3 separate regions of the Homo sapiens genome follow, and all the other regions are linked to region 2. Evidence: fine-mapped expression QTL. A gene starts in region 2. Each other region holds a variant in brackets. All regions are shown on one strand. Distances are between the middles of the regions. Region 1 overlaps STAT1 (signal transducer and activator of transcription 1). Region 2 holds the start of GLS (glutaminase). Region 3 overlaps STAT4 (signal transducer and activator of transcription 4).

Region 1 (11,110 bases), 100 kb before region 2:
AATGAGAATTAAATGGTCACATTGGCAGTCCTCTGAGCTTTGTGACTACTGGGCAGTGCTGTTGGCTGGATCCCCAGTGCTTAGTGCAGGGCCTTGCACCAAGTAGCTGCTCAATAAACAATAACGATAGCTTAAACATTTATTGAGGGTGTACTGGTGCTGGTGCTTACATTTATTGAGGGTGTACTGGTGAGGAATTAACTAGTTTATTCCTCATGATGTCCTATATGTTGGCACTGTTAGTATGTTGTGCAAATGAACAATGTAAGGCCCAGACCATTTATTTGCCAAAGGTCATTCAGTGATACTTGCCAGACCTAGTATGGGTAGATGGAAGCAGGGAGTGAATGAAAGGCTGCAAATCCATAGGTGTAGATTTATTTTTTATTCATCATTCACTTACACTCTTATGCTCTTATACTCTTATAATTTTGTTAAAGCTTATTTCAAATTTTAAATACGCATATGTGATTATATATATTTTTTTTGCAGAGATGTGAATGAGAGAAATACAGTAAAAGGGTACGTGACGTACTTTACGCTATACTGTGCTATATTTTTATTTATTTAATAGTTGGAAGACTTTTCAGCATTTCTTTCCTATATTGTATAGATTTAGGAAGTTCAACATTTTGGGCACGCACACAAAAGTGATGAACATGGAGGAGTCCACCAATGGCAGTCTGGCGGCTGAATTTCGGCACCTGGTAGGGACATCAGTTTCCTCTCTATGTTGTCTCTGGTTTCTTAGGACTTTTGACAATAGAGCAGCCCTTTTTGGCACATTGCCATGTGGAGGACGCCCCCCTGCTGGGGTTTGTAGACTTTGTGGCTGGTGTCTTCCTGTCGCCAGTACTTGGGGCATTTTGGTTTCTCCTCCTTATCCCACGACTGTTCACTCTGTTTTCTGGGCTGTATCACTTGCAGTAAAAATATTTCCTAAGCCTGTGTTTACGTAAATGATTTGCACTTGCTGCCTGCATGATCCCCACGGTCACTCACCTACGCTTGCAGTTTTCTCAAAGGTTATGGCTCCCGTGTCCTGACTGTGATCCAAGTGTGGTCCTGTACACCAGGGTTCACTCCTCAGCCCCCGTGTTCCCCTTCCTGGTGGCCCTGCCCACAGCCCCTGCCTCCACGCCAGCCTGACTCTACCACCTTTTCTCCAGGGCAGTAGGGCTCATTCCCCAGGCAGTGGAGACCCAGCAGGATGCTCTGTGTGGGTGCACCATCTTTCCTCCTCTGTGAACATGGGGGCTGCCAGTTGCTGTGAGGCTCTGTGGGTGCTGAGTCCGAAGCTTTCCCTGGGCCCAGAACCTGCAGGAGGTTAAAGGCATCCTTTTTCACTAGAGACCACTTTGTGATCCAGCAAGCCTCGTAGCTAGGAAGCTCTACCTAACTCGAAAGCTTAGCCCAACTCAGGTGCCTGAGGGTATTCAGAGCCGCCCTCAGGGCCCCAGCCTGCTCCCTCGTCAGCTCAGGGATTGACAGCTCAGAGATTGACGTCCACTTGAGGGCAGGTGGACCTGGAGTCACTGGGCCCAGCCTGGAGGACTCTGCTGAGGGAAAGGGGAGGGAGAAGCTGTCCCGAGCCTCAGGGCATGAAACAGTTAACGAAGGTGCATGGGGAAACATTCAGGGAAAGTTTGAACACAGGAGAGGAGCGGGTTGTGATTCCAAGAGATCCCTCCAGACTGGTGTCCGCACCATGAGGCCACTGAGGAAACGTGCTTCTGCTCATGGACCCTGAACGAGGGCCAATTTGTCCCATGTTCTGCATTCTAAAGATAAAGTCACGTCTGTCATTCTTTCTAGTCCTAACTTTGTTCTCATTTGTAAATGAAGATAGCAACTTTGACCATTACCATGGTGTTTACTAAGATGATTATTTGTTTTATAGCAATTGAAAGAACAGAAAAATGCTGGCACCAGAACGAATGAGGTGAGAGTCCCTTTATGTTGTGAATGGGCCCAAATCAGGCAGGTCTGTCTAGCAAGGACAGGTCAGTTGGTGGCTGGGGACACCTCACAGAGGAGTTCAGACCCATCAGGGAAGAGCAGCAAAGGAGCTGGGTATTTGGTATATCTGTGACAACAGTAAAAACACCACATTTGTGCTTTACTATTGTCAAACGATTTTGCACACAAATTCATTAGACACTCATGGACAACTCAGTGGAGTAGCTGTTGTGGGCTTTTGTATTCTTCGCATCTTACGGGTGAAGAAATTGACTCACAGAAGTTTGCAGGATTTAGCTAAGGGTGCACAGAGTTACTGTCAGAGTTGGAACGAGAGGCCACTTTGATGACTGCCTTGCTGTGTGCCAAGAGGGCTTTTCGGCCATTGCATCCCCTACCAAAAGCATTGCCTTTGCATCAGTTTCCTTCCTACAGCGTGATCCTTAAGGAGTTGGGTTTGTGATGCATTCAGAAATGAACTATGGACAAAGGATGAAATATCTGGAGTTGTTTTGGTTGAGAACACTTTCGTCATTTATGCACACACAGTGTGCAGTCCTTCCACACCAGGACCAGTGGAGGTCACATGGAGCAGCGGGACAAACACAGGCCCAGGCAGTGCAAAGATGCCTTCTAGCCCTGGTGTGCGCCTGAACTATGTTTTGACCTCCCTGGGTCTAGCTGTTGCACCTCTCTAGTTCTAAGTTGTGAGGCTCACATGAGGTAATGCTTATGAAGGCACTTTGAAATCTATCCATTTCTACCGAAACCAAGACAACTTGTGACCTGCCAAGTTGATGTGAGTCAGCCCTTCCGGTAGGCAGTAGACAATCACAAGTATGCACTTACTCCCAGTCCTCTCACCTTCTCCCCACCCATCTGCATTGAGATGTGCAGCCACACTGGGCAGGCAGACAGAGCTGAGGGTCGAGAAGCCTTAGGTCACAAAGCCATTAGTTGCTCTTTCCCCATTGACAATCATTGCTCTGAATCTATAACCCTTGCCGTAACTTCAGACACTTATCTTTCAGAGCACACTGAGATACTAAGAATCATTAAATCTGGGAGAGATTGAATATTGAGTCTTCAGACTTGCCACTGATTGGGCCCAGGATCTCTGTGGCCTGTTGCAATGTTAATTGGGCTTTTGAAAGTTTTAGGATCTGTGAATAATTATATTCTTTTCTTCTTTCCTTTTCTCTTCCAAGGGTCCTCTCATCGTTACTGAAGAGCTTCACTCCCTTAGTTTTGAAACCCAATTGTGCCAGCCTGGTTTGGTAATTGACCTCGAGGTAAGACTTTTATGGTCCCGAGTTGGAAAACTTCATTATTTTTACTTTTAATTGTTACATGTATTTTTATTTCTCAGTGTTTGTTCTGGAGGTATTTACCTAATTGTTTTAAAATGATCTTTTTCAGCTAATACTATCTTAACCTTAATTTATGGTCCAGAAAGCTAGACAATTGAATTAACCTTCAAATTCAATAACTTAAAAGTTCCAGTTGAGATCGCTGATGTTAATTTTTTTTTTTTACATTAAGCATTGGGACTTATTTATTTTGCTCTGCCCTCCCCCCACATTTTATGTTTTCATTGTGACAGTTTTCATCTTCTCATATTGCATATCCCTTAATTAATTATTGTAGCTATTATTATTTTTAGGGACTTATTTCTTAACTGAAAGATACATCAAAGACAAGTTAAACTGGACAGAAGAACAGAACTTAACACTTCTCATTTTCAAGTATTAAATATGTACAAATTTACAAATAATCCCCTGCTTTTAGTTGAGGCTAAGCAGTTATCTGAAGGTGACATTTCTGTGATTCAGATGATTTCAAGGTCTTTGTCATCCTTTAGACGACCTCTCTGCCCGTTGTGGTGATCTCCAACGTCAGCCAGCTCCCGAGCGGTTGGGCCTCCATCCTTTGGTACAACATGCTGGTGGCGGAACCCAGGGTATGGAAAACACATTTGCTTTGGTCCCAGGGTTAAGCAGAGACCCCACGCTCTCACTGCTGCATCTCTGAAATAGCCCCAATGGCCAGTTGTTAAGGGAGAAGTGACAAAGCTCCTGTGGTATTTCTAAGGCTTTTGAGTAAATCTGGGAATATGAAGCATGGATATGTATTTGAAATGAGAATTACGTTTTTTCTCCCATGTGGGTAAGCTAGGGCAGTCAGTGATTCCATACCACTTTATTGTTATTATTTTTAAAATGTATACATCTACTAAACAAGCATGCTCCATTCTTAGAGTGTGGATACTCACTGTTAATTAATTACAGTCATTTATAATTATTCAAAGTACTTATGTTTTTTAAAGTCACCAGGAACACTTAACTAGCAAATAATGAATTGTTGCTCCTAAGGGAACTACGAGGCTAGGTTCCTTCAAGCCTCTGGTCACAACATTTTTGTCAACCCATCAATGCATAACATTGTTTATGTGTGTTTCTGTTTAAAGACACCTTATCTAATACACTTGTTGAGGCATTAACATTACACCTATAGCTAGGATCACTGTAACTCATGCCTGAGTGAAGCTTGCCTCACACATGTATTTTCTCCATAAGGCACATCCCAGCCTTCCCATGCTTAGGAACAGTAGACCACACTGTGGTACTATGCTCGGGCACCATTTTAAACAGGGATCACCAACAGCAGTCACAAAATGCAAAAAACATGGCGCTAAATAGGCTTCAAAAAGGACACGTTTTTCTTATGAGAGGTGAAACAGGAAGCGAGTGTCATTTTGTTTGGCTTCAGTTGGAAGCGTGTTAAGAGACTCGAATTCTTTGCTGCTGTGTGCTGCTGTGTGTGCACGGGTGTGTCTTCAAATGACCCCAAAGATGCCATGTATTTAGATTTTGGAGTTACAAGTAAATTTTAGTGAGTAAACAAGTTCACAAATGTGCATCTGTAAATAATGAAAATTGACTGTATTTCTCTTCCCCTACTGTGAAAGCACCTGTGTGTCATATAAACTAGAATTGAACTTTGGGATGGACATATGTTTTAGTGCCACACTTGTGACTGGTGTCTCTGTAGTAACCCTTAGATTTTGGGTGTTTTCTCTCTAGAATCTGTCCTTCTTCCTGACTCCACCATGTGCACGATGGGCTCAGCTTTCAGAAGTGCTGAGTTGGCAGTTTTCTTCTGTCACCAAAAGAGGTCTCAATGTGGACCAGCTGAACATGTTGGGAGAGAAGCTTCTTGGTATATGCATATTAACTTGTTATGTTTATAAAAATTGAAATTCATAAAAATATCTCTCTAATTGCTCTTTTCCCCTCTGCTATTTTGTTAAAGGTAAAAAAGTACTAAAATCTGTCAGCTTTTCAAGCTATAGTTTATTATAGCTAAGTGAGAATCATATGTCACCTTAGAAAGAAATATAGACCTGATAACATTTAAATGAATCCGTTCCTCATTGTCTCATATTAAGATTTCTGAGATGAATTCCCAAGGGAAAGTTTTATGAATTATGTAAAATATATTATTTGTGGCTGAAATAAGTTCCTGGATGAGAAAGATGAAGGCCTATTAACCATTAACCTTGGGGAGAAAAAAGGAAGTCCCTGACATGATGAGAAATAAAGTCCTGGGGCTTGCCCACTGCAGCATAAACCCAGGGCCCTTGCCTCAGGTGGGGCCCAGGTAGCAGAGGATGCCGTCCCCACAAGAGGATGCCTCTTTTGATCTGCAGTTTTGCCTGATTGGACAGAGTCTAGACAGTGGTAGATAATTCCCTTTCAGTGGTTAATGTCAGTGCATTTATTAGTCCTTCATACTAAACAAATCAAAGATCCACTAGTCTCAAGGTCAGATCTTTCAGTGAGTGAGGCTATCTGAACTATTTCTTTAAAAATCCGTGGACAACTTGTATCCAGATTTGCTTTCTGTAGAGCAGCACTGCATTTACTCCAAACAGCAGTAGGCTCTTCCTAACTCAGTGACTTTCAACAGTGCCTTCTTCTCTTGGATATGCA[G/A]CTGTCACAGTGGTGGTCTTGTGCTGTTTAATACAAGTACAAAATCCCCTTATTCCATTTCTTTATTTGGTGAGAGTTAAGAAGGATATCTTTTCTAGCTGTAATGGCTCATTTGTAGTTCTCTTTGAAGACCGATAATGGGCTTACCGCCTCTTCTCGCCCAGGCTGCTTTAATTTGTGTAGCTAATAACCCCGGGCTTCTTCCTCTCGTTTCTCTCACTTGGTTTTTGATTTGCATCAGACTGCCTGAGCCCATGTCCTATTTGGAGGAAAGCTGAGGGAAATGCATAAATAATGTCTAAAATAAACTTGTAAAGTCAAGTATCAGTTACATTGAAGATCTAGGGGTGATCTTGGGCACCTAGGTTGAACTTTGAAAAAAATTCTGTAGGATCCTTGGGAGAGGGGGCTCTGCTGAGCAGCAGAGGAAGGCAGTGGGAAGAGGCACTGGATAGGGAGGCTTCTCTAGGAGGCCCAGCAGAACACCTTTGATTTAGTGCAAAAGGCAAAGTCAGCTGATGGTCTTGGAAGGAAGTGTAACATGAAGAGGCATTAAAAGGACTGTCCTCTCTTTAGAGGAGGGAGGGAAAAGGGGGGCTGGGGAGGGAGAGAGCAGATGGTAAGGCTTTGTGATGTTTCCGCTTTCCCTAAAAACTCTCATATCGTGGTGCCCAGGAATCTGCCATCCATTCCTTTCTGCCATTAAACTCAAACCAACATATACATATTTTAGACCATTTAAATTCCGCCCTCTTACAGCACGTATTATAATTGCTCAGTTAATTTGGCATTAAGGTATCCGAAAATGTCAACTGTGTACATACAATCTTTGTTGGGTGTTTGGCTCTTTTCCTTGAGAGCAAATACAAGAGCCATCCGTCCAACCAAAGCTTTAGAATCAGTTTCTGTTTGCTGAAAAATCTGGTTTTTATTTGTTTAGGTCCTAACGCCAGCCCCGATGGTCTCATTCCGTGGACGAGGTTTTGTAAGGTGAGGACTGTCTGGGTTTTATGCTCTCTAAGTCCTTTTTGCTCTTGGTTGAGGTTCTCATGTTTCTTGCTGTGATAGTTACTTAACTGTTTGCTTATTTTGGCGTGTTCTTCTCTGGCCAAGGAGCCCCTCGGGCAAGTTGTTTACTTTTCTTCAGTGCAGGAGGTTGGTCTCCGAGCAGGAGTCTGACAGGAAGCACCTGCCTGAGTGATAACATTCTTTCATATCTGAAATGAGGCTTCTGTTCACTCACGCTGGACCCCTGCCCAGCAGTGTTTTAGCCATTTCTGTGTGAAATGTATGTTGTGGGCTGGGTGGCGCAGCCTGACCAGCCAGACGAGTTTAACGGCCTGCTCGAGCAGAGGGGCCCACTGCGGGGAACATTTAGATTCTGCTGGAGTCACCAGACAGTGCGGACCAGCTTGCACTGCTGGATTTTGCTAGTGTGGGGCAGCTTGTGTTTCCGTGAGTCACGCTGGAGGTCACCCCCAGGCTAGCTTGCTACTGTTTGGAAAGGGAAGCAGAGCCCGGCCCAGGGAAGTGGAGAGCTCTGGAGAGCTCCTGGTCTGAATGCTGATAAGAGCGGGGAGGGAACTTGATATTCCCTGCCAGGGGAGGGATCCCATTGCTGTGCTGAATGGGACAGTTCCATCCTTGGCACCTGGGGAGTCTTTGCAAATGATGGTGGGAGGGGCCATGGTAAGTCATTGTTTTAGATTTTTGTTCATAATGTCTGCATTTGTATACTTTCAGGAAAATATAAATGATAAAAATTTTCCCTTCTGGCTTTGGATTGAAAGCATCCTAGAACTCATTAAAAAACACCTGCTCCCTCTCTGGAATGATGGGTAAGGGCCACCGATAGATGTATTTTGAAACATATTTTTAGTGCTGCGAGGTTGAGACAAGGCCTGAGTCCAGCTTCAGTATTTGACTAGGCGTGTGTGAATCTCACAGGAGTGCGCATTTATAGGCTGCCCCTTCAGGGCTTCAGAAGAGTAGAACCTCATAACATTAACCTTACACTTTCTTAGTACAAGTATATGTATTGGCAAAGCTAAATTAAAAAAAAAAAACAACTCTTGAGTGCCATTCATGCATTCATTCACTCAACAAAAATTTTTTGAGCACCTACTATGTGGCCCCTAGGAAGGAAGAAAAACCCTTTTAACTGGGTAAATCATTTCTATCTTGACTTATTGCCAGGATCGGCTGATATTTCAACAGAAGCTTTAACTTGATCAGAAGGGCTAAAATATGAAAATATATTGCCTAGGTCTTCCTCTCCAGTAAAAAAGATGTATACATTCAGACATTGTTATGGCCTTTAAAATAATAAAGGAACAATAAAAGGCTCATTAATCCCACACGTGTTATTGAGCATCTGTAGCATCCTACTGACACCATGTTCATATCGCTTTTTTTAAAACCTTAGTATATACATGTATAAGTGAAATGCTTCCTTAAGTGTCAACTGAACAGATTTTAAAATAGTCTACGTTTTTTACCGTAGGTTTTTTTTCTCACATTCCAGCCATTTTCTTGGTTTGTAAGTTAGCATGAAAATGGAAATCATGATTGAACTAAAAGCCCATCCGTCCATCTCTTCGATATCCAGGTGCATCATGGGCTTCATCAGCAAGGAGCGAGAGCGTGCCCTGTTGAAGGACCAGCAGCCGGGGACCTTCCTGCTGCGGTTCAGTGAGAGCTCCCGGGAAGGGGCCATCACATTCACATGGGTGGAGCGGTCCCAGAACGGAGGCGGTGAGTGGGAGTTTGAGCACATAGTCCCACCATTCCATGTGTGTGAAGTCCCTCTTCATCGCCGCCAGTCAGCTCATACAGATAGTGCGTTTGGGACATGAAATTGCAGATCTTATACTTACCCCAAATGAGCCCCCGATAGGATTTAATAAACCACCACAAATGTTTGTGGTTGTGGTTCACTCTCTGGAACATATTGTGGAAATGATGGTTTTGAAAAGACAATGCCAATTCTTTCCTTTGCATCAGGTTTGTTATCTGCAGATCAAGGATGTGAGTCAATGTAATCTGCAACCCGTTCTTGGAAGGAATCACATTTCCCACAGGAGTAAGCATCCACATTCTCTTAGGGTCATCCCAGAGTAGAGTGTGCAGATGAGACAGGCTTCGGGAGAAGACTTCATACACATCATCAGCCAGGGAGTTGATGCAGGACCTGTTGGGACGAGTGGCAGCCTCTACCCTGCCTTCAAACAGAGCAGCTGCAAATTTATCTTTATCATATATGGGGTTTCTATTTAATCAAATGAGTCCATGGCTAAAAGACTCCAGAAACCTTGGTGTTATGAAGCAGGTTTCTGAGGGTGAAGCTCAACAGCGTAAATGAAAAAATCATAAAGACCAACTGATTACTTTTCACTGTTGTTTAGAGTTTGGTCTGTTTGAAGGGCAGGAGGAAAAACTGATTTGTTTTAGTAATTTTTATACTTTCAGTGGGTAGACACAAAATGGAATACTCTTCTTGTTCTATTTATTTTTCTGAAATATTCCTCTTCTCCTGTTTTTCTGGAATACTCTTATTCTATTTGTTTTTCTGCCATACTCTTCTTGTTCTGTTTGTTTTTCTGGAATACTCTTCTATTTTTTTTTTCTGGAACGGTATTCTTTCTTGTTCTGTTTATTTTTCAGGAATACTCTTCTTGTTCTATTTGTTTTTCTGGAATACTTTTCTTGTTCTATTTTTCTTCTGAGGAAAAAGCAGGGAGGCTGAGATGAGAGTCTGGCGTGGGCAGTAGTCATTAGAACCTGCCCTTTTCCTCTTATCCTGTTCCCTTCCTGAACCAGCTGAGAGACAGATATAGTAGACCAAGCAGAGATGAAGAAAACCCTTGGCAACCAGGAAAGGTCAAGCAGGACACTACCAGCCAGGAAGGGTTAGGATGGCAGCATAGTCTCATGTTCCACAGCAGGCTCCCCAGAACACCTGAACCGTGGCCTCTGGAAGGTCGACACCCAAAGGGAGATTCTGTATCAGCTAGGAAGAAGGATCTGAATTCAGTCTGGGAATAAGAACGGGAGTAAATTAAACCATGGTTTATTACGTTAAGGGTTACAGGGAAATGTAGCAAATAGGATCATTTTTAATTTGAAATGTTGTTTTCTATATATCATAATTTATTTTAATAAAAAATTAGATTTTTCAATATGAAAAGAAAAACAAAGTGAGTTTATCTCTAGTAATTTAAATCTGTGGCTTAAGCCAAGATGATCCACTTAGTAGTAAGTTATTTATGTGCCTATGGGCAGCACATCATTGAAGATGCAGGCTTTTAAAGGTTTTTAATAAATCTTTTTTGCCCAGATTTATAAATCTAAGCAAATAATGGCAAATAGAATGTTATTGAGAATAATACCTCCCTTTATTTTCCCTGAGACAGTATTATAATTTATTTAGAAATAAAGCAGTCTACTGTATATGTTATAATGCTTAGATTGTGATTAGTTCTTATGAGGTTCACTCAAATCCATCAACTCTGCAGTGTTTTATTTCTCTGTCCTCTTTCATTTTGGGATGTTCTATGGGATTTACTTAGCTTTTCTCCTTTTTAGAACCTGACTTCCATGCGGTTGAACCCTACACGAAGAAAGAACTTTCTGCTGTTACTTTCCCTGACATCATTCGCAATTACAAAGTCATGGCTGCTGAGAATATTCCTGAGAATCCCCTGAAGTATCTGTATCCAAATATTGACAAAGACCATGCCTTTGGAAAGTATTACTCCAGGCCAAAGGAAGGTAAGTGGGGCAAGCAGGTGGTAACAGCGTGGCACAGTCTTTCCTGATGAGGGGGTGATTATTCTGAAACTCCACCCATGCAGTGTTTTGCTTTCGAATTGGTAAGAGTAGGCTTTCAAAAGATGGCATAAACTCAGTGCAGGTGAAACATAATGCATTATTTGGCCTGATACAGCTAGTAAGAAATGAATGGACAATTTCCTATTTTAGGAATGTTGGAAAAGTCCATTGCTGGTCTTGTGTATTTGTTACTATCACTGTTTCCACATGAAAAGGGTTTAAATAAGGAACTGTGGTAAACCAACAGAAGGCATCTTGCTCACGTTAAAGTTGAGGAAACTGAGGCCTGGGAGAAGTGAAGTGGTTCATTTAGGGTGGCCCAATTACTT
Region 2 (11,110 bases):
CTATGTGAAAGCTATGTACCTCACTGAGAGATATCAGTAATTAATAACTATTTTTATAAATACATCTGTTTACTCACCTTTCTTAAGCATTTCTCTTACTAGCAAATGACTTAAAGGTGAAAAGGCACAGACAGGCAACTATAAAATATAACCTTAATTTATATAGGATTTAACATGATTGAGCTCCCTCACACAAATTCTATAATTAGGCTTTCAGCTTATATGGTCATAATTTTTCTTCATTTCAAATATCACAAGAAGGAAGTAGTACAGCCTTTTACTATTACTTTCTTTTTTTTTTTTTTTTTGAGACAAGAGTCTCGCTCTGTCACCCAGGCTGGAGTGCAGCGGCATGATCTCGGCTCACTGCAACCTCCACCTCCTGGGTTCAAGCGATTCTCCTGCCTCAGCCTCCCGAGTAGCTGGGATTACAGGTGCCCGCCACCACTCCTGGCTAATTTTTGTATTTTTAGTAGAGACAGTGTTTCACCATGTTGGCCAGGCTGGTCTCAAGCTCCTGACCTCAACTGATCCACCTGCTTTGGCCTCCCAAAGTGCTGGGATTACGGGCATGAGCCACCACGCCCAGCCTGATTTCTTTTAAATAACTTTTTAAAACTCAAAGAAACCCACAAATATCTTCAGCAAATTTCTTTCAAAGTGACATTTATCTTTGGACTAAAATAGTGCCCCCCCTCCCTTTTAGCTGGCCTACATATTGCCTCATAAAAAAGGCTGAATTCTATTTGGTAGTCATTTCATGGATTAGCTGACTTTGAGGTAGGTAGACTTCTCTATAAAAGAGTAAGGTCTGGAAATATGCAGCTAAAAGTCCAGGAGACTAAACCCCTCAGAATCTAATTCTTGTTCTTTCAGTGAATTTCATCCAAATATTAATAAAACTATAAATTAACAGCATGAGTTTGTTAATTACAGATCATGGACAAAGTTATCAATGACTGATGCACATTTCAATATAAATATTAGGTCACAAAAATGTTATGACATATAGTTATTGGTACCTTTTTCACTTGCTTTTAAAAAAACAAAACTGGGCTGGGTGCAGTGGCTCACGCCTGTAATCCCAGCAATTTGGGAGGCCGAAGCAGGCGTATCACAAGGTCAGGAGGTCGAGACCATCCTGGCTGACATGGTAAATTCCCATCTTACTAAAAATACAAAAATTAGCCAGGTGTGGTGGCACGTGCCTGTAAGTCCCAGCTACATGGGGGGCTGAGGCAGGAGAACGACTTGAACCCAGGAGGCAGAGGTTGCATTGAGCTGAGATCACACCACTGCACTCCAACCTGGGTGACAGAGTGAGACTCCACCTCAAAAATAAATAAATAAATAAAAATAAAATTTAAAAAAAAAAACTAAAACTCACTGATAATCATCACCTAGAAAAAAATTTTTAATAATGAAGAAATCAAAAATAACTAAGGGGCTGCCTGAGAAGCCCAAAGGAAAAAATTAAACATACTTTCCACCTTGATTTTAGCTTAAGTGAATTGTAAATATGTTAGCTTTTAAAATTAAAACCAAATGCAATACTGAAGGATCATAAAAACATGTGCCCCCATTTTAACAGAGGTTTTGTCATTCAGTTCTAAAACTTAATATTTATATCTGCCAAATACTAACTCAACTTCCTTACTAGTATTGTTCAATCTACCCAATTCAATGTTCGCTGAAATTCATAAGCATTTCATCTTACTTTGAAATTCAATGTTCAGACCAGGTGCGGTGGCTCACGCCTGTAATCCCAGCACTTTGGGTGGCCACAGCGGGCAGATCATCTGAGGTCAGGAGTTCAAGACCAGCCCAGCCAACATGGTGAAACCCCATCTCTACTAAAAACAAAAATTAGCCACGCATGGTGGCGGGTGCCTGTAATCCCAGCTACTCGGGAGGCTGAGGCAGGAGAATGGCTTGAACCCGGGAGGCAGAGGTTGCAGTGAACCGAGATCACACCACTGCACTCCAGCCTGTGTGACAGAGCGAGACTCCATCTCAAAAAAAAAAAATTCAATTTTCAGAGTATACACCTCGATGATTTTCTTTGCCCTTCATTGTCCATAACTATCAAAACATAAAGCTGAACTATCAAAACATAAATCCATACTAACTAAAGCTAGCTGAAATCATTTTTGCTTGCATTTTTACTTTTAAATATAAATATATTTTAAAGCATGCTTATTTGTGTAATTACAAATATTTCTGAATGCCACGACTTCATGTAGATATGCAAACATCCAACTACCACATCACAGCTATGCAGTTTTTAACAGAAACTACCAAACTGCCTAAAGTAACTGAACTAATAATTTATACTTCTACTAGCAATGCTAGAGTTCCTATTTTCCCAATTACTTGATTTAACATCTGCCAATCTGAGAAGGGGAAAGTGACCTCATTGTTGTTTTAACAGAATACTTTCAATATTGCATCCTGTATGAATTATCTATTTTCTAACAACATACATATGCTGGTATTTTTCCAGCCCAATTTCTGTTATGTATCTCTTTTCCTTTCTCATTAAAAAATAAATGTCCAAATAAAAAAACTTAATAATGCCCCTTACCTCTATCCCTCTGACTCTTCCTAGGGACCATTCACTAAGATAGGATACATACTTCTGGACTTTATGGAAATAAGTATAACCAGCTTAACAGAGAAAAGTATGATAAAAATGTCCATATGGGCAAGTGCTGGCATAAACCATAACATAGTTTGTGACTTTAATATAATGCTCATTCCAGATCCTGCTGGTTTTCTGGAAGAGAGTGCTATTTTCAAATTAAAACTCTAAAATTACTCTCATAACAGTACGCAAAATAGGTTGAATTGGAGAAAAGAATGAATATCAGGGTACAGACTTAAAATTTGAAGTCATTGAATATGTGGCGACAAATTTAAGAACAGAGCTTTGGATTAAGAGGTGAAGTATTACCTACACAAAGATGAGAGTCAAAGCTGAAAGAAGGGATACGCTGTTGAGAAGGCAGACAAGTGGGAAAGGGACAAAGGCCTCAGCCTCAGGGTTTTTACCCAGTGAGGAAATTCAAAAAGAACTAGGAAAGAAGAGAGAACAATTTTGAAAACGAAGAGAGGCAAGCAAAGTTGGTTTTCAAGATAACAGAATGAACCATAACAAAATTAAATAAGATCACTAAAGACAAAACTGAGCAAAGATCATTAAATTTTTCTATGTGATATTAAGACGTTCGTATCCTAAACCACACTAAAGTTGCGTGATGGAAACAGCATAGTCTAAAGTGACATTAGTTCAAAGAGTTTGTGAAAAAAAGGTAAAGTAACTTGCTTATATCACGCCTCCTTCCAGAATATAAAGTAAATAAAATATAAACTCAGGACCAAGGAAAGGAGGAAACGCAGATATCCCAGCCATGTGAACTGATGAAATTGGTGTGGTTAAGCATTAAATTTACTCTGAACTTATTTATCAGCAGAGCAAAAGGTAAACAGTGCAACTCACATAGTTTCATATAAGACAGATGTATAGCAATTTCTCAAGATAAACATTTTTGTGGAAACTAAAAAAATTAAAAACCTTCATGTGCAAGCCTGAAATTCCAAGGCCAATCTCTTTAACAGGCTTTACAATAATGAAGAAGCAATGTTTTCTCATTTATTTAATAAATAGTTATGTGTCATTTAACACACGCCAAATATTGTTCTAAGCCTTTTACAAAATGTTAATTTAATTTTCTCATGGTTATTTCTTTTAATAATACTACATAAAATCTGGCACAGTCCTGAGTGAGTGCTAGCATACCAGGTGGACTGCTGACTGAGGGATGACCTATGCTTTGCAGGCTAAGCATTAGAAAGGATAACAGGATCAACTGGGAGCTTACCTCCCAGGATAAGAGAAATGTTTGTCACATAAAGGCAAAATGAAAGGAGCCAAAGAGGGAAAGCTACATTTGGAAACCAGATCATTAAGGAAATAGAAACTTTAACCAAATTAAAAAACTTTCTTCACAACCTTGAGGCCCTTGCTAAAAGGTGATTTTTTATTAAAAAGGCAATGAAACCAGAAACTTCTGGACAAGTGAATCACAGAAGAAGCTCAATTTCCTGTTTGACAAAAGAGGAAAAAAAAGAGAGGCACTAGAGCCACTGCAGAGACACAGACCTGAAGACATAATTTTACTAGAATGCAGTTCCCATCTTGTAGCCTTTAAGATGAACTTTTAAACGGTTGTGACTGCATTTTGCAATTCTGTACCTTGGGCACTTGCATGTAAACTCGTTACTTCCTTGGTAAACCGGATGATGTTAAAGTAAAAGTGAGTCCCAGATGAGATTAAATTATCATTCTAGTCCCTAAAACATGAGAGAAGTACAAATTTAACAGAAGTATAGCTTTTTAGAACTTGAAAGGATTTAAGTCATCTAACCCAAGATATTAAATAACCTGTCCATGGTCAGGACGCTATTTTGTGGCACAAAACCAACATCACAAAATACCACAAATTTCGCCCATCATCAAGTGATTTTTTTCAAATAATCTTTTTCAGTCTGGGAGAAGAACTTTAGAAAAGTTTCTGGAAGGTCCCAACTTCAATTACAGGAAAACATCAAGCAGGCGTGAGATTGAAATTATAACAATGTTCTCACTTTCAGTTTGACTTAAGGAACTCTAGAGCTGGAAATAGCAGCAGAAATAAAAGGGAAGCAAAACAGGTTAGAGTGTCAGCGTACAAAGCCAGAAAAAGAGTAAGGTATAATGAAAGCAGATCCGTAAATTTTTACCCATTTTGGGAAAACAAAGTGGTCCATTTGTATTACACAAGACAAAAATATATAGGAGACTGCTTTGCATATTGTTTAAGAAAAACCAGTTTTGCTTTAAGACTAAACTACTGTGCCGTACACATACAGGATGAGTCAACATCCTATCACAATGAAGTCACAAAACCTACTCAACTCAGATTTTTCACTGAGTTAGTGTATTACGTCACATTTCATCTTGGCTATTTAACTTTTATTTCTAAAAATCTCCCCATCTCACGGAAGACCTGACAAGCCAAAGCTGGTCCCTTATGCAAACAGGTGGTCTATACTGCGTGCCCCATCTTCTCGGCCACATGACCGGATTCCTCCTAATCTCACTTCTGAAACATTGTTTCCGGTGCCCCAGATGGCTCTACACGTGCCTGAGGTAGCCACTCCCGAAATATAAAGAGCTCTCTGTCACATCTGGCTTCCAACCGGATGATGGCAGAAACCAAGGGAGGGCAGGCAGAGCGGAAACGAGCCAGGAAAAGCGACAAGTCAGGAAGGTAAAGGCTCTGCTGAACGCCCAACTCCTAAATGTCACTCGGTGGAGATGTTCGTGCAGCATCGCCCACGAATGGCTGGGGCGGGCGGCCAGGCGCTGCAGCCGCAAGCCAGGGAGCTGAGCACGCAGCGCGGGCAGGGGAGCGGCCTCTCTGGCGCTGGGGACGCCAGGCGAGCCCATCAGGCCCCACCGCGGCCCCACCAGGGCGACCCCCGCCGGGGGCGGAGAAGGGAAGTGGGTGCCTGGCGGAGGGTTGCGGGCGGGGAAGGCGCGGGCGGGGCCGGGCCTAATCACATGGCGCAGACGGCGCAGGCCGCCCGGCACCTCTTTCTTTCTCTTTTCTAGACCCTCGGCTCCTATCCCGCCCCACCGCAGGGCCCCACACAGCCTGAGCCCGGGCCCCGAAAGGAACGAGGCCTCCTGCGCCTCGCGGAGACACTCACTTTTCACCTGAGGCCACCAGCTCTTTGCCCTCGCTGTTGCCAAACGCGTCCGTCTCCCCGGGGCCGTCCTTGGGGCCGGGCGCCGCCGGGGCAGCGGGTGGCGACACCCCGGGCTGCGGATGCGTGCTCCCCTTGCCCAGCTCCTGCAAGATCTCCGAAGGAGAGCTGGACAGGCCCCGCGCGAGGGGCTCCGCCGGCCAGCCGCCCCCGCCCCACCACGGGTGGAGTCGCGCGGCGGCAGCCGGGCCCGCGGCCGGCCGTCCCCCGCCTCGGGGACGCCGGCACAGGGTGACCAAGGGCTGTGCCCGCCGCAGAGTCGCGCTCACGCCGGCGGGCGACCGCAGGAGCAGGTCCCGCAGCATCCCCGAGCCTCGCAGCCGCATCATGCCGCCGGGTCCGTCAGCGCCCGCTCAACAGGGGAGGATGCTCCGGGCGTGGGCGGCCGGTTTCCTCGGGGAACGCGGTCTGTGGTGGGGCGGTGAGATGACAGAAGAGGAAAGGGCAGCTACTTGGGTGTGGTTCCGGCTCGGACTCCCGCAGCGGATGCGGGTGCTGCTGCTGCTGCTGCTGCTGCTGCTGCTGCTGCTGCTGCTGCTGCGCGCTAGGATTGCCGCGACCGGTTCTCTTCGCTCCGCCTAAGGCTCCGCACTGAGGCTAAAGCGCAGGGGAGGGCTAGAGACCTTCAGCGCTCGCCGACGGCCCGCCCCTTTCGCCCGCTGCGATTGGCTCAAATCCTCGACCTCTCTTTTGATTGGCGATTAGGGCAGTCAAATTTCTCTCGGCTCTGGGTGCGCGGAGAGTAGGGCGGGGGATTGGTGGGGGGCGGGGAGAGGAGTCAAACTGACGTGTGAAGCGGGTGAGCCAGGCCCGGCTGCTCAGTAGCCACTTTCTGCACGCCGTGCCAACTCCGAGGCTAGCCTAGTTGGGTACTAGGGGCTCTGGGTTCTCGCATTTATGAAGCAGTGGGCTCCTCCACTCTGGGAATTCGAGCTGTTGGGGAGACTCATGGGCGAGATCCCCCGCAGCCGAGGGCAGTGAGGTCAGCAGGTTTGGCAGGGCTGAGTCTGGCCGAGCTGTCGGAACTCAGCCGATCCCAGCTCGCATCTGGCCCCCAGGTCAGGGCGTCTGGCGACTCCTCCGAGAGCAGCCCCGGACAAGCTTCATCCCTCTCCCAAATGTAACATTTGCTTGAAACTTTCCATGATTGGCTACTACCCAGACGTGAAGTGTTTTGGAAAAAATGAGCAAAATCCTTTCAGCTATGCGACTTAAGCCATGGGAGGGTGGAGGTGGAGGGAGGGCGACGAGTGGCGAGGCGGGGTGGGGGGGTTGCGGAATCCAGAATACGACAGCTTTCTTTTTTAAAAATTATTTTTTTTAAATGTACACCGATACTTCAAAAATAGTTTTGAATAGCAATGATTCCGTTAACGCTATTTGCTTGAAAGCAAAACTGTAGATACTTTTCTATTTTAAAAACTGCTTCACTGTTTTAAAATAGAAGCGTTGGAATACGGGTTCTCTAAGTTATTTCAGCATCACTTTATCCATTTATCCTTTTGGACCTGTGGAAAAACAGCCAAGAACCTGATAAACTGAGTTATTCCCTGAGGCTACATACACATTACATTCCAGGACAAAAAAATGTTTTTAGACTATTTCCTGAAACAATTAGGTTTAAATGGAGTAGATCCACAGAGTTTAATAAGATGTTTTGGGGGTTGGTGTGTTGTTACTGTGTTGTTGTGTGTGTTCGTTTTGAGAAAGGGTCTCACTCTGTCGCCCAGGCTGAAGTGCAGTGGCGCGATCACGGCTTACTGCAGCCTTGAACTCAGGGGCCCCGGTGATCCTCCCACCTCAGCCAGCACCTGCTTTTTTTTTTTTTTTTTTTTGTATTTTTGGTAGAGACGGGGTTTCGCCAGGTTGCCCAGGCTGGTTTCGAGGGATCTGCACCCCCTGGGCCTCCCAAATTGCTGGGATTACAGGCGTGAGCCACCACGCCCGGCCTAATGAGGTGATTTTTATGAAACTAGAAGGGTGTATGTCAGGTGCATCATTAATTGATAACCGGATTTAGTAATCTAGTGAACTGTAAAATATTTCAATAGATTAATAATTAGGAAATCTGGCTGTACCTACAGGTTATGTGACCTTTGGCATGTTACAGCCTTGCCGTGTTTTAAGTTTTTTTTTTCTATCTGCTCTTTAACCAGAAGAACATGGAAAAAACTATCATGTGTAAAACATAGTCACCTTTTTTATTTAAAAAAAAAAAAGCAGGACAATGGGAAAGTACTTAGATAGCTTTTATTACTAATGTTACTTGTCCAAAAATGTTGATGAATCAAAGTAATGATATATTCAGGAATAGAGACATCAAGTTTCAGAGGAAAGGTAACAAATATTACCCCTGCCTAACCCTGACTTGTTAATGACTTGCAGACTTTAATATTGTCCAATATATTAGCTGCAATTAGTTATCAATTTTAACTGCCTCTTTTTTCTCAACAACACAAAGCAACTGACAATCCAGTTACTGTTTTCCTCTCAGTTTCTCCCTTAATTTCTCTGAGTTTCTTATGAAAATTGTTTTAGATATTTAAAGGTTTAAAGGCTTTATAGTTCACTTAACAAATAAGAAAGCTAACCTAGTAACAGATTATTTTCTAGAGTTTCTAGTTTCTAGAGTTTTATTTTCTGGTAGTTTCCAGACTTTCTGCTTTTGGTGAGAATGGATAGATATTACTCCCAAAATTTGGAAGAATTGAGTCCACTGAAATTTAACCCCTTGTTTGAGAAGGCTAATGAAAAGGTTATAGACAGCAAAGAAACTATTATAAATAGAATAAAAATGTGACTCAATACTTTCATTTGATTCTTTTCTTCATCTTATATAATTTTTTAATCTTTAAAGATATTTTTATCTACAACTTTGTAACCATTACACAACTTTGAAGTTTCAGTTATGTTAAATTGAATTATATCATTACATAAACTCATGTAATCATCATGTAAAAAGTATAAAAACATTTGTATACATACAATAAGTAGTCCACCAAAATATCTACAAATAGAAAAATGCTCTCCACATTAACTATGGTTGGGTTGTCAGATCTACTCTTCGACTTCCTTTTTGCTCCTAAGTGCAGCTACACTACAAAGAGTTGCTGTCCCATAGCCATCATCAGGTAATCAGCCATCAAAAGGAATAATTGGAATTTGTGCACTTTGTGTCTGTTCTAACTTGAAGAAAGGTTCCTGTGCTTCTATGTTCCTGAGCTTCTTTGTTCTGTCGAAGATTACAAAAGGCTAATGTTTCAAGATCATAATAAAATCCATATATAGGCCGGGCGCGGTGGACTCACACCTGTAATCCCAGCACTTTGGGAGGCTGAGGCGAGCAGATCACAAGGTCAGGAGATTGAGACCATCCTGGCTAACACGGTTAAACCCCATCTCTACTAAAAATACAACGATTAGCTGGGCGTGGTGGCACACACCTGTAATCCCAGCTACTTGGGAGGCTGAGGCAGGAGAATCACTCAAACCTGGGAGGCCGAGGTTACAGTGAGCCAAGATCGCACCACTGCACTCCAGCCTGGCAACAGAGCGATACTACATCTCAAAAAATAAAATAAAATAAGATAAAATAATATATATATATAGAAATTCCAGATTGCGCCTTCACAAAAACTAGTAGATTATTTGTTGACCTAGAACTAAAAAGAAAGTAATTTTCCTTTGACTAACAGCTTAAAAGAATTGCCTAAGCCTTTTTTTGAAATTCTTCTGTTTGGAGAATAGAGTAAGGTTCAGGAAGCCTCTAAACAAGCTTCTGCTACTACTTCCCTTTCTTCTGTTGGTTTCCTGCTTTAACTGGCCAAATTCCTAGCCTCACTGATAAGCCCTGCCAAACATGGCTTATTTTTCCAATACTGAATATAGATGTGTACCAAAGTAAGTATGGTAAATCCCTCATCTATAAAAAGGGGATAATATGGCCAGGCAAGGTGGCTCACGCCTGTAATCCCAGCACTTTGGGAGGCCGAAGCAGGTGGATCACCTGAGGTCAGGAGTTCAAGACCAGCCTGGCCAACATGGTGAAACCCCATCTCTACTAGAAATTCAAAAAATTAGCCAGGCATGGTGGTGCATGCCTGTAATCCCAGCTACTCGGGAGGCTGAGGCAGGAGAATTGCTTGAACCTGGGAGGCAGAGGTTGCAGTGAGCCGAGATCTAGCCATTGCACTCCAGCCTGGGCTATGAGAGAGCAAGACTCCATCTCAAAAAAACAAAGGGGGGCGGATAATATTGGTACTTATAGGGTTGTTGTGTGGAATAAATAAACAACACATATAAAGCACCCAGAATAATGACAGTAGCACTCTGTAAGTGTTATAGCTGTTATTATCAAACCATAGGTGAATAAATTTTGACATGCAATGTGATCAGTTTTTACACTTATTGTTGAAAAGCCAAACAATTGTTTTAAACCATCTAATAATAAAATACCATTTAAGGGGAACCTAGAGATAATTTACTTACTTCATTTTTAGAAAATAAACCAATAATTTTCAAAGTATCTTAAAATAGAAAAAGATAAAGACAGTCAGATTAAGAAAAGCTGGGCTCAGTGCCCAAAGTAACAGCTATTCACAAATAGCTAAAAAAAAAAAAAAATTCCAGAGAAGGAAGAATCGCTAAGAAAGCAGTCCTTGAATATACATGTCATATACAAATACCTTAACATATAGCAATTAAATCTAAAAATATATCATTTGCCATCTATGTAAATGAAAGTATACCTCTGTTCATTGTGACATCATATAAAATGACAAGAGATATTCATCAAATTTGAGCAGCATATCTGAATGATCTGCCTTAAAATACTAACTATATGAAGTTCTTTTTGAGAGTTTCCTGATGGCCGGAGTGGGGGTTGGGTGGGAATCAGTTATTTTTCTCCACTTAGAGTAATATGATAAAGATTTCAATTAGTGGAGTTTGTAAGGTAATATTGTTTATATTTACACCACCATTATATTTATGGGGCCTCCAAATATTAATTTTTTAAAGTGATTTTAATGCTTATTTTTCTGTGGATTCATATTAAAAATAAATCAGGCTAAACCCCAGCCCAGAGTTAAGAAAGTCTTTCTTGTATATTAGCAAAACCTAAAAAAAACTGATTTTGTATATAGTCCAAAAGTCAGTCAAAAGGATACCTGCTTGAGAATGAAAACAACCTCTGTGGTAGATTATACTACTATTCCCAAATATTTTTGTCCCTCCCACTGGGCAGACTTTACCTCCTCACCTTGGATGGCAGTCTTGGCCTTGATTTGTTCAATGATAT
Region 3 (11,110 bases), 200 kb before region 2:
CTCACTATATGTTCTATGTGTTTTATCAAATGTGTAATATCATGTATCCAGTATCATAGTGTTATACAGAATAGTTTCATTGCCCTAGATATCCCCTGTTCTCCACCTATTCATCATCCACTCCCTCTCTTTCTTCTAACTCCTGGCAACCACTGACTTTTTTATTGTCTCCATAGTTTGACTTTTCCATAATGTCATATAGTTGGAATCACACAATATGTAGCCTTTTCACGTTGGCTGCTTTTACTTGGTAATATGCATGTAAATTTCATCCATATCTTTTCCTGACTTGATAGCTCATTTCTTATTGGTGCTGAATAATATTCTATCGTCTAGATGGACTGCAGTGTATCTATTCACCTATTTGAGGATATCTTGGTTGCTTCAAATTTCAGCAATTATAAATGAAGCTGCTATAAACATCCATGTGTAGGTTTTCATGTAGAAATGAGTTTTCATCTCCTTTAGATAAATACCAAGGGGTGCAATTGCTGAATCATATTACAAGAGTATGTTTAGTTTTATAACAAATTGCCAAACTGTTTTTGAAAATGGCTGTATTATTTTTCACTCCCACGAGCAACAAATGAAAGTTTCTGTTGCTCCACATCCGCATCAACATTTGGTGTGATCAGTGTGCTGGATTTTGATTGTTCTGATAGATGCATTGCAGTATCTCATTGTTATTTTAGTATGCATTTCCCTGACCACGTATGATGTGGAGCATCTTTTCATATGCCTATTTTTCATCTATATATCTTCTTTGGTGAGACATCTATTATGGTATTTGGCCCATTTTTAAATTGAGTTTGTTTTCTTGCTTTTTAAAAATATTTTAGATAATAATTCATTATCAGATATGTTTTTTGCCAATATTCTCTCCTAGCCTGTGACTTTCATTTTCATTTCTTAACAGTGTCTTTCACAGAGCAGAAATTTTTCCACTAATCAATCTGTCGTTTCATGAATTTTGCCTTTAGTGTTGTATCTAAAAAGTCATCACTAAATCCAAGGTCATCTAGATTATTTTCTGTTATCTTCTAAGACGTTTATAGTTTTGCATTTTACATTTAAGTCTGTGGTTCACTTTGAGTTAATTTCACTTATTTTTTGTGGGAGGTGAAAGGTCAGTGTCTAGATTCACTTTTTGCATATCCAGCTGAATATCCAGCTATTCCAGCACCACTTGTTGAAAAGACCACCTTTGTTCTGTTGTGTCGCATTTGCCCTTTTGTCAAAAGTCAGTTAAGTACATTTACGTGGATCCATTTCAGAACTGTCTATTCTGTTCCATTGATCTATCTGTCCATTCTTTTACCTGTACCACACTGTCTTGATTACTATAGGTTTATACTAAGTCCCAAAGTTGAGTGGAGTCACTTCAACTTTGGTTTTCTCTTTCAATGTCATTGCTATCTGGCTCTTTAGCCTCTCCATATAAACTTTAAAATTAGTCATTATCCAGAAAATAACTTGCTAGTATTTTGATTGGAATCTGTAGATAATTCCATTGAATCTATAGATAAGTGGGGAATAACTGACATCTTGACAATACAGTCTTTATTCTGCTTATTTCTGCCTAAAGTGAATATGAAATATCTTTTCATTTATTTAGTTCTTCTTTGATTTCTTTCATTAGTCTTATCATTTTCCTTACATATCTTATCCACACATTGTTAGATTTATACCTAAGTATTTCATTTTTTGTGCTAATATGAGTAGCATTGTGCTTTCAATTTCAAATTCCAATGATTTGTTCCTGTTCAATAGGAAAGCAATTGACTTTTGTGTCTTAATGTTACAGTCTATAACCTTACTCTAATGGCTTATTAGTTCCAGGAGGCTTTTTTTGTTGTTGTTCTTTGGGATTTTCTATATAGACAGTCACTGTGTCTATGGACACATGTGGACAATTCACCTGTGAACAAAGAAAATTTTATTACATCCTTCCCTATTTGTATAGAATTTATTTCCTTTTCTTACCTTATTGTATTAAGCTACTACTTGCAATATGATGCTGAATAGGAGTGGTGAGTTCAGCCTACCTTGCCTTGTTCTTTGTCTTAGCAGAAAAGCACCTAGTTTCTGACCATTAAGTATATTACCTGTAGATTTTTTGGTACATTTTTTTTTTATCAAGTTGAGAAATTTCACTATTCCTAGTATACTCAGAGTTTTTATCATGAAAGTCAATTGCTTTTTAAAACCTATTAGACTAGCCATTCTATTTTAATCAGCTTTAAGACAACTAGTTCAGCTCTTCTTCAATTTAGTGGGTTTGTTTTTTTCACCGTAGACATAACCTTTTGATTCTGGTGAGGAAAGATTAGGTAGAAGCCATTAAGAAAAATTACATACTCAGAATAAAGAGAAGGAAATAATAAGAAGCTGGTCATAACAAGACCAGCAAAGGTGGCCTTGTTATGTAAATGAAGCCTCCCTCAGAGTAGATGGTAAATGTTTCATTTCAGATTTTTAAAGGCCTCAGACTCTTACTCTGTCCTGGATGGGGTAGTGGGATGGAAAGGGGAGGGAGCGTGGTTGCATTAATGGAGATTCTCTACAGATGCAAATTTTTCCCACAAAAGAGCTTTGCAAGGCCACTTCTGTTAGCTGGCCAAGCTGCAACCATTTTAAAACACATCAAAGAAATATATTTGGGAGTAAAATATTTTAATTTCCTTTAGTCCCCACTTTGAAACTTAAAACAGGTTTCACGCATTAAAAGGCAAGCTGATAGCTTTGGAGAGATTTAGGTTTAGAGGTTGTTAAATGGAGACAGACAATGGAGTGAAAGAAAAATTGGGATAAATAGAAAAGAGCAAATTTAAATATATTGTTTCATATCTTCTTTCATCACTATATTAGTCCTGAGAATAGATCAATTCAGTTAAACAGTTGTGTCACATTCCAGGAGGCGACATTGCAGATGGGTTAGGCTTCTATATTAGGTAGACAATCAGATCTCTAATAAGAGGCATTTCTATAGAAACATAAGAAAAACAAAGGTGAATGTCAAGAGCAATCAGTCTCTATACTAGTTTTCTAGAGCCTCTGAGGCACTTCAGATTGCCACTGCAATCCAGATTCTTCTGGATTGTAGTTCAAACCAGATGTTCAAGTGAACTTTCTGAGAAGTCCAAACATGAGCAGGCAGATACAAAGGTTGTTAAAATAACAGTTGCTGTTATTTTCTCCTGAGGTTTAAATTGCCTAGCTTCAGTTTGAGAAGCTTTAAGAAAAGCAGTTCTAATTTCTAGCAATTTCAAGTCAGAAACATGGGAGAAAAAAATTGAAAATATTAGTTTGGAGATATATAGCCAGGAGAAAAATTCAGAACTCAATCTAAATTGTAGCAAATACTAAAAACTGAAAAAGAATAGACAAGGCTAGAATCTGATAACAAGTATACTACAGTTTCTTTTGGAACATAATTTTTCTCTTTCCAATCCCCCAATTTTACTAAAGACAACATCATAGCAGGAGTAATTTATTTGCACAGTAAGTTTTAGTTTAATTATACTTGGTCTGATTATTTGTATAAAATGCATTGAAAGTAATTATTTGCTATACAGGCTCTTTTTAAAATTAGCTTTGCTGGAACTTTTATTTAAAAATAAGGACTCTCAAATTAGACCTTTTAAAAGCCTCAAGCCCAGCCAAGGATTTATCTATGCTTGCAGATAGTTGTATGAATTGGGTGAATTCCTCTCTTCTTGAGGTCCTATGAGGTTCCCGGGCCTGTCAGAAAGTGACAATCTTTACTTATCACAGGTCAAGAACCCTGTGAAGGACAAGATAGAAGGCCAGTTTTTCCAAAGGGCTTTTATGGGCTCTGTACATCAATCCCAATTCCTCAAAGCCATCTGTTCATATCTGAAAATATCGTTGCAACCAAAGACTTGGTAAAATAGCCAGTGTCTTCAGTGTGTCCTCTTACAGAAGAAAAGAGATTATTATTATTGAACTTATGAAAATAACTATTGCCATAAATTAAGAATACTCACAAATAGTTTCCAAATTCTGGAGAAAGAAATATGTTTCAAATTTTGCTCACAAGAATATATTTTACTCAGTTGTTAAAAGCTGTAAATAGTTCAAATGAAAAAAAGGTTTTCTTGACTTTGAAAAACAAAAAAAGAATCAGTAAAGTTTGAAACAAAAAAAGTAATAAAATTATTTAAATTTTCTATTAGTTCAGTCCATGCAATTAACTTCTGTTCTACTTGATATTGGGTCAGCAATTCTCATGAACACATCAGCTCTCCCTGAGAGTCCTGGAAGTTTTCTCTCTATTCCATTGGCACTGTCTCCAAAGTTATCAGAAACCTGCATTCAAGAGCACCTGTCAGAATCCTGAGATGACTTTGAACCAATTTTGAAAGGATCAACATAAAACAATTGTTTGTGGATGACAAAAGTTTTAGAACATCCACAGTTAAAGACACAATTGCCAAGGAAATTTGGTTATTTCTGTGGCTTTCAACAATTTTACATAATAATTATAATTACTACTGATAACATAGACATATCAGAATCATAAGAATCTCATACAATTTGGAATACATACTAATAACACATTAATATAAATATAATATAAATATAAATATTTAACCCAAAGAAAGTTAAACACCATTTTATATTTGGGAGTGTTTCCTATATGACTTTAACATATCAAGTAAGATCAATATGTCTCTCTTGGACTTCTGAAAAGTTAGTTTTAGGACAAAAGACTGAATTTAGAATTTGATTTTGAATTGTCAAATATGAAAGGTTTTAAATACTTCATATCACAAATAGGACCACAAGTCACTATAAAATAAGTAATTTATTTAGCCAAAATGATAATTCAAAGATTTCAAAAGAGCAGAAACATTTACTCTTTGGCAGAGAGGAGACTTACTTTCCCAAACAATAAAATCTAATAAAGATAGCATGAGGCCAACAAAATCTTTCTCTCTCCCATTTTTTTTTTTTGGTAGTTTACTCAAAAGATAAAAATATTTTACTATTTTCTAATATTACACAAAAATCTTGTTCGAGAGAAAAACTACTTTTTTTACCTTTGTATAGTATATTATTAATGCTAAAGCTATTTTTAATAAAACCTTATGAATAAATAAACCTTAATCAGTTGAGCCATAAGGTAAGATTTTCATAAACTTTTTATATTTTTATAATTTTTTATTAAAGAGTAGATCAGTGCTCCAAGAAAATCCTGTGATTCTAACACAAAGGCCTAGATTCTGGCCCTACGTCAGTATGCTTTTTATTTTAATGTTTAATTTATAGAAAAACTAAAAAAGTCCATTTAAAATTTAGCTAACTTGCTCACATATAGAATTTTTTTATAAGATTAATTTTTCTCAAACCTTTCACAACTTGTTTAAACCTTCAGTTTTCTCCTTATTTTAACTTAAAACAATCCTTAAACACTTTTTAACTAGAGAAAATTAATTTTCCTTTAATAAAACCACCTCCCCATGCCTTCTTGTAACTTTATGAAAAATACACTTTACCTTTTTTTATGTACTTTGTATTTAGTAGTTTTAATTACATGTATTAATTGTAATGTCAATTCTTAATAACTCATTTTTAGTGAAAAACTTAGGACGTAAGTAATTTTAATTATGTACCAGGTGCAGAGCCCAGATCAAAGAACCATCCCTAGAACTAGGCTTCATCATATCCTAATGGCTCAACTCTAAGAACATAAGCTTATAGACAGGTTAAGCAAGTGTCAGAAAAAAAGTTCTATTTTTTTTTTTTTTAGACGGAGTCTTGCTCCGTCACCCAGGCTGGAGTGCAATGGCATGATCTCGGCTCACTGCAACCTCTGCCTCCTGGGTTCAAGCGAGTCTCTTGCCTCAGCCTCCTAAGTAGCTGGGATTACAGTCACGCACCACCATGCCCAGCTAATTTTTGTATTTTTAGTACAGACGGGGTTTCACCTTGTTGGTCAGGCTGGTCTCGAACTCCTGACCTCATGATCTGCTTGTCTCAGCCTCCCAAAGTGCTGGAATTACAGGCGTGAGCCACCACACCCAGCCACAAAGTTCTATATCTTAAAACACCTATCAAAGACGGACTAATTTAGGCCAAATGTCTAAATTCTGAAGA[C/T]ATTGCTGTTTTATTTTAGCAATAATTTTAAAACTGTCTTTTTTTCATCAAAGATTACTAAAATCATGCGAACTTGAAAGGCATTTGGGCTTATTTACTTAATTTATGAGTAAGTCAGTTTGATACCCACACAGGCCAGTGTGTTTGACATTGGCGAGGAATAAAGATAAAAATGACTCAACAGCAGTATTTGTGATGCAAAGGGAGAGAGAGCTAGTTGGCAACCAGAAGTACGCAGTAGGTTGCACATTTCTAATTCAAAAATGTGAATGAAAATATTTTACTCTGTAAATGGAGACAAATGCTTCATATCCCAGAGATACCACAAAGAATAAATATCTACATTTGAGAGAAGTATGGTTGTAGGTAGTTAAAAAAATGAGAAGTCAAAAAGTTCTCAAATTGGGGTTAGGAGAAGAGCTGGTACAGCAGAGGTGGGGCTGTCCTGTTCACATCTTCTTGGCCTTATCATTTTAGTTTAGTCAAGTAGAAATCCAACGGCCAGTATCCCATCTTTTTTCATTGCTAATGATAGATGACAAGAGCTGATGTGAAAATACTCCAGTTCCCAAAGTCCTTGAGTAGATAACTCTGTCACATATTCCATACCAACTTCAAGGGTTCTCAGCCCATCTTAGCAAATGGCTAACAGCACACCCTTACTGGCTCCCTTCTCTTCCTCGTCTCACTTGCCCACTCCCATAACAGTGTTTTGTGGGACCAACTCCCACTTAAACGACTTGCACTGGAATCCTTGTCTCAAGGTCAGTTTCTGAAGAAACCCAAGCTAGGACAGTTGTTGGTTATGTGTTTCCTCAGAATCCTATATCCCCTTTGGTCACTAATGCCTCCTGTTTCAGGCCCTCTAGAAAATTCTCCCTTTATTTGACCTGGGACCTATCATTCTCATCCTGCAGTTGCCAGGTCACTACAGTCAGAGAACATCATCTGAAAAATCCTTCACAATACAGAAGAAATTTGTTAAATGTGGTATTAACCCTCCAAATGTGTTTACATTTTTAAGAGGGCCACTGGGAAAAGAACTCAGAGGAGTGAATTCCTAATTGTGAAGTTTCAGGCTCCATGTCGCCTGTATGAAGAAGATTATTTTGAACAGGGCTTCTCACATCTATTACTTCTGACTCTGGAACTTCTTGGACCATTTGGAAGAAAAAGAGCAGATGAACTAGTTACTCTTTAATGACAAGTCAAATTTGGAAATTAGATAGAAAGGCTGTGGAAGGGGAATTTGAAGGAAAGCCAAGAAATTTAGCATAAAGTAGCAAAAAGAATAAATAGCATGTTCATGGATTCTATGACACTGTTCTCCACATTTTAACATCTTTAAATCTCTGAAATAGAATGCATATTATAATCAATAACACCTCTTAATTGCTGTTGCCATGTGGCAATCACAACATCGTTGTCATTGCCTGTGATGTGAAACTGGGTCAAAGCTATCATGTTGTTGTCACTTCAATCGAATTATGTGCACTGTTGGTGCAACATATGTTGATCTTAATTGCTGTTTAAAATGTCATCAAAATATAACACTATAATTTAGGATTCAAACAAATAGTTATTATGTATGCAGAAAGGGACGGGAACAAATCAGCAGGGTACAAATTTGATATTTGTGAAGCAACCATTTGTCACTAGATGGATGACCCTAAATTCCAAGTTTTCTTGGAAAGCAACAATAAAATCCTTTATAGGATGTAAGAAAGGAAGATGCTCACAAGTAGATAAAGTTGTATTATATTTTGTTACTGAAATTAATGCAAAAAAGATTGCCTGTCATACACAAAGCAACAGTGGCAAGAGAAATTGCCAAATTCCTCATAATAGATGAAAGAAATCTCAGCACAATAAGACCCTGGAGTGAATGATTCATGCATTGCACAGTATTATCATTAAGATGTACAACATCAATTTATCAGAAACATCCTGCTGACTGAGCAGGGTACACTTAACTTCCAGCATGATGCAAGTGAGGAAAAATGATAATATGTGTTTAATTAAAGAGGTAATGCTAGGGATGAGGGAGTGGTTTTCCTTGGCAAGACTTAAAATCATACTGCCAATACAAATGGAACTTCAAGGAGTCCAGGATTATGAATTTGGGGTATCAAAAGCAGCATGTCACTATGATCTTATGTCTAACTGCTGATTGCTGAAGTCACCACCATATTTAATTTGTGTAACTGTAAAACAATGTCTAAGAATAAGAACTTTATGTGGGCAAAGGATATGAACAGACACTTCCCCAAAAGAAGACATTTATGCAGCCAACAAATGTGAAAAAAATGCTCATCGTCACTGGTCATCAGAGAGATGCAAATCAAAACCACAGTAAGATACCATCTCACGCCAGTTAGCATGACAATCATTAAAAAGTCAGGAAACAACAGATGCTGGAGAGGATGTGGAGAAATAGGAACACTTTTACACTGTTGGTGGGAGTGTAAATTAGTTCAACCGTTGTGGAAGACAGTGTGACAATTCCTCAAGGATCTAGAACCAGAAATACCACTTGACGCAGCAATCCCATTACTGGGTATATACCCAAAGGATTATAAATCATTCTACTATAAAGACACATGCACACATATGTTTATTTTGGCACTGTTCACAATAGCAAAGACTTGGAACCAACCCAGATGCTCATCAATGATAGACTCGATAAAGAAAATTTGGCACATATACACCATGGAATACTATGCAGCCATAAAAAAGGATGAGTTCATGTCCTTTGCAGGGACATGGATGAAGCTGGAAGCCATCGTTCTCAGCAAACTAACACAAGAACAGAAAACCAAACACAGCATGTTCTCACTCATAAGTGGGAGTTGAACAATGAGAATATATGGACACAGGTAGGGGAACATCACACACCAGGGCCTGTCAGGGGATGGGGGGCTAGGGAAGGGATAGCATTAGGAGAAATACCTAATTTGATGACAGGTTGATGAGTGCAGCAAACCATCATGGCACATGTATACCTATGTAACAAACCTGCACATGTATCCCAGAACTTAAAGTATAACAAAAAAAAATTTTAAAGAACTTTTTCAAAGGTATTATTAAGAGTGAAACACGATAGTGGATGGATAATGACTGTGGTGACAGACGACTGATTAGAAGTCTTCTGGAATAGACATCTGAGAATCTACCATATATTCTGGTTCTCAATGATTCCATGGACATCTGCCTGAAAAGTTAAATACGAATCTCATCTATTAGTGATGTGGTTGTTTATCATGATGGTATGACTAGACTATTACAACTCTTTAATGTTTCAGTCAACAAACCATTTAACCATATGTAGAAAAAATATGAGTCCTGGTTCTTGTCTGAAACCTTCTACTGAGAAATTTTGGAGAGATCAAGAAAGTGCCAGCATCAAAACTTACAAAATGAAGACAATAATTGTGCACACTCTACAGAAATATGCATTGCTGTCATGCTTGATGGCCCAGAAGACATTATTTTATGGAAAAATATGAGTGCCAATAAATCTAAGTTTAAAGGAGATTCAGAAAAATTGAACTCTAAAGTGAAGTAGTTTTAGGAAGACATTAGCCAATTTATTACACATATACTTCCCTTTTAATATATGTACACAATACTGATATATTAGTAAATATATATATCTATGTTGAAATAAATCAAGAGTTTTACCAATAAAGAAAAAATAAAAATTCTAAGTGATAAAAAGCATTGTGGTATACTTTGTATTTTTGTTTCAAGGCAAAAAGCATTACTAGAGATAAAGGTCAGTGCATGGTAATAAAAGATTTCATTGACCACTAATATATAAAAGTCTAAATGTGTATGACAGTAGCACAAGAAGAAAAATTCACAGAGTAGATTTTAACTTACCTTTTTCAATGACTGCAAAAATCTATCAGGCAAAGAAAAATCAGCAAGGATGCAGAAATTTGAACAAAACAATTAACAAACATGGTTTAATAAACCTGTATGAAACATTTGTACCCATCAACTGCAAAATACATATTTGTTGCAAGCTCACATGAAACATTTACAAGATATTAATATGCTGGGTCATAAAACAAGTCTCAACAAATTTAAAATGATTGAAGTCATTCAGAGAATGTATTCTGATTAAAATTAAATTATTCTAAAAATCTGTAAAAAAAAGATAAATAGAAAATCCCTATGTATAGAAATTAACAAATACATTTTTAAATAAGTCACCTTAGGACAAAGATGAAATCCTGATGGAAGTTAGATGATTAAAAAGGAGGAAAATTCTATCAATATCCACATGATATATGATTTGTATATGCAGAAAATTCCAAAGAATATACAGATATAATTTTAGAATTAATAAGAGATATTACAAAAGCATTAGAATCAGAGTTTAGCAAGGTTGCTGGATTCAAAATCAATATACAAAAATTAATTATATTTCTATATAACAGCAAAAACAATGAGGAAAAAGATATTTATTCTAGTATCAAAAAATACCATCTACAGAAATAAACCCAGTGAAACACATATAAGATTATAATGTTTAATAGAGAAACATTAAAGAAGACATAAATAAATAGATTAGAACACAAGTATAAAGATGCCAAGTCTCCCTAAATTTTACCTAAAGATTTAGTGTCATTCAAATTCTCAACCAGGGTGTGCATATGTGTGTGTGCGTGACTTGACAAGTTGATTCTAAAATGTATATAGAAATATAAAGAAGACCTATTCTACTTGACATCAAGACTTACTATAAAGCTGTAGTAAAAAACACAAAAAGATTATCTATTGATGAAGCAGAGAGAGAACCATAAGATGGAATGGAGTCCAGAAACAAGCCCACCCACAAAGGAACACTTGATTTATGACAGAGCTGGCCCAGCAGAGCAGTGGTAAAAGAATAAGATGTTCAGTAAATGTTATTGGAATTTGGTAGACATGTGGAAAAAAATGAAAGAAAACTCTCATTATTAACAAGCTCCAAGTTAATTAC

Evidence for each region. PIP is the estimated chance that this variant, and not a neighbour inherited with it, causes the effect.
Region 1: its variant is fine-mapped to the expression of GLS in whole blood (TOPMed, PIP above 0.99).
Region 3: its variant is fine-mapped to the expression of GLS in breast (GTEx, PIP above 0.99).

What each region holds. Positions count from the first base shown.
Region 1 is chr2:190,976,451-190,987,560 of GRCh38, reverse strand. It overlaps STAT1 (signal transducer and activator of transcription 1), which reads left to right. Exons shown (of 25, transcript NM_007315.4): 13 at 493-522; 14 at 614-707; 15 at 1,901-1,942; 16 at 3,168-3,251; 17 at 3,821-3,919; 18 at 5,043-5,178; 19 at 6,892-6,941; 20 at 7,695-7,789; 21 at 8,560-8,705; 22 at 10,536-10,721. Among named protein-coding and RNA genes, the nearest start is that of STAT1, 32 kb to the left of the region's middle. The variant G/A (reference allele first, on the strand shown) is at 5,952.
Region 2 is chr2:190,876,115-190,887,224 of GRCh38, reverse strand. It overlaps GLS (glutaminase), which reads right to left and starts at 6,404. Exons shown (of 18, transcript NM_014905.5): 1 at 5,755-6,404. The coding sequence starts at 6,140. It overlaps LOC124906110 (a long non-coding RNA gene), which reads left to right and starts at 5,237. Exons shown (of 2, transcript XR_007087791.1): 1 at 5,237-5,312; 2 at 5,657-10,889. RefSeq lists enhancers at 4,927-5,116, 4,281-5,480, 6,877-7,016 and silencers at 5,437-5,746, 5,807-5,896, 5,947-6,006, 6,347-6,606.
Region 3 is chr2:191,078,922-191,090,031 of GRCh38, reverse strand. The region is part of intron 3 of STAT4 (signal transducer and activator of transcription 4); the gene reads left to right. Among named protein-coding and RNA genes, the nearest start is that of STAT4-AS1, 63 kb to the right of the region's middle. The variant C/T (reference allele first, on the strand shown) is at 6,121.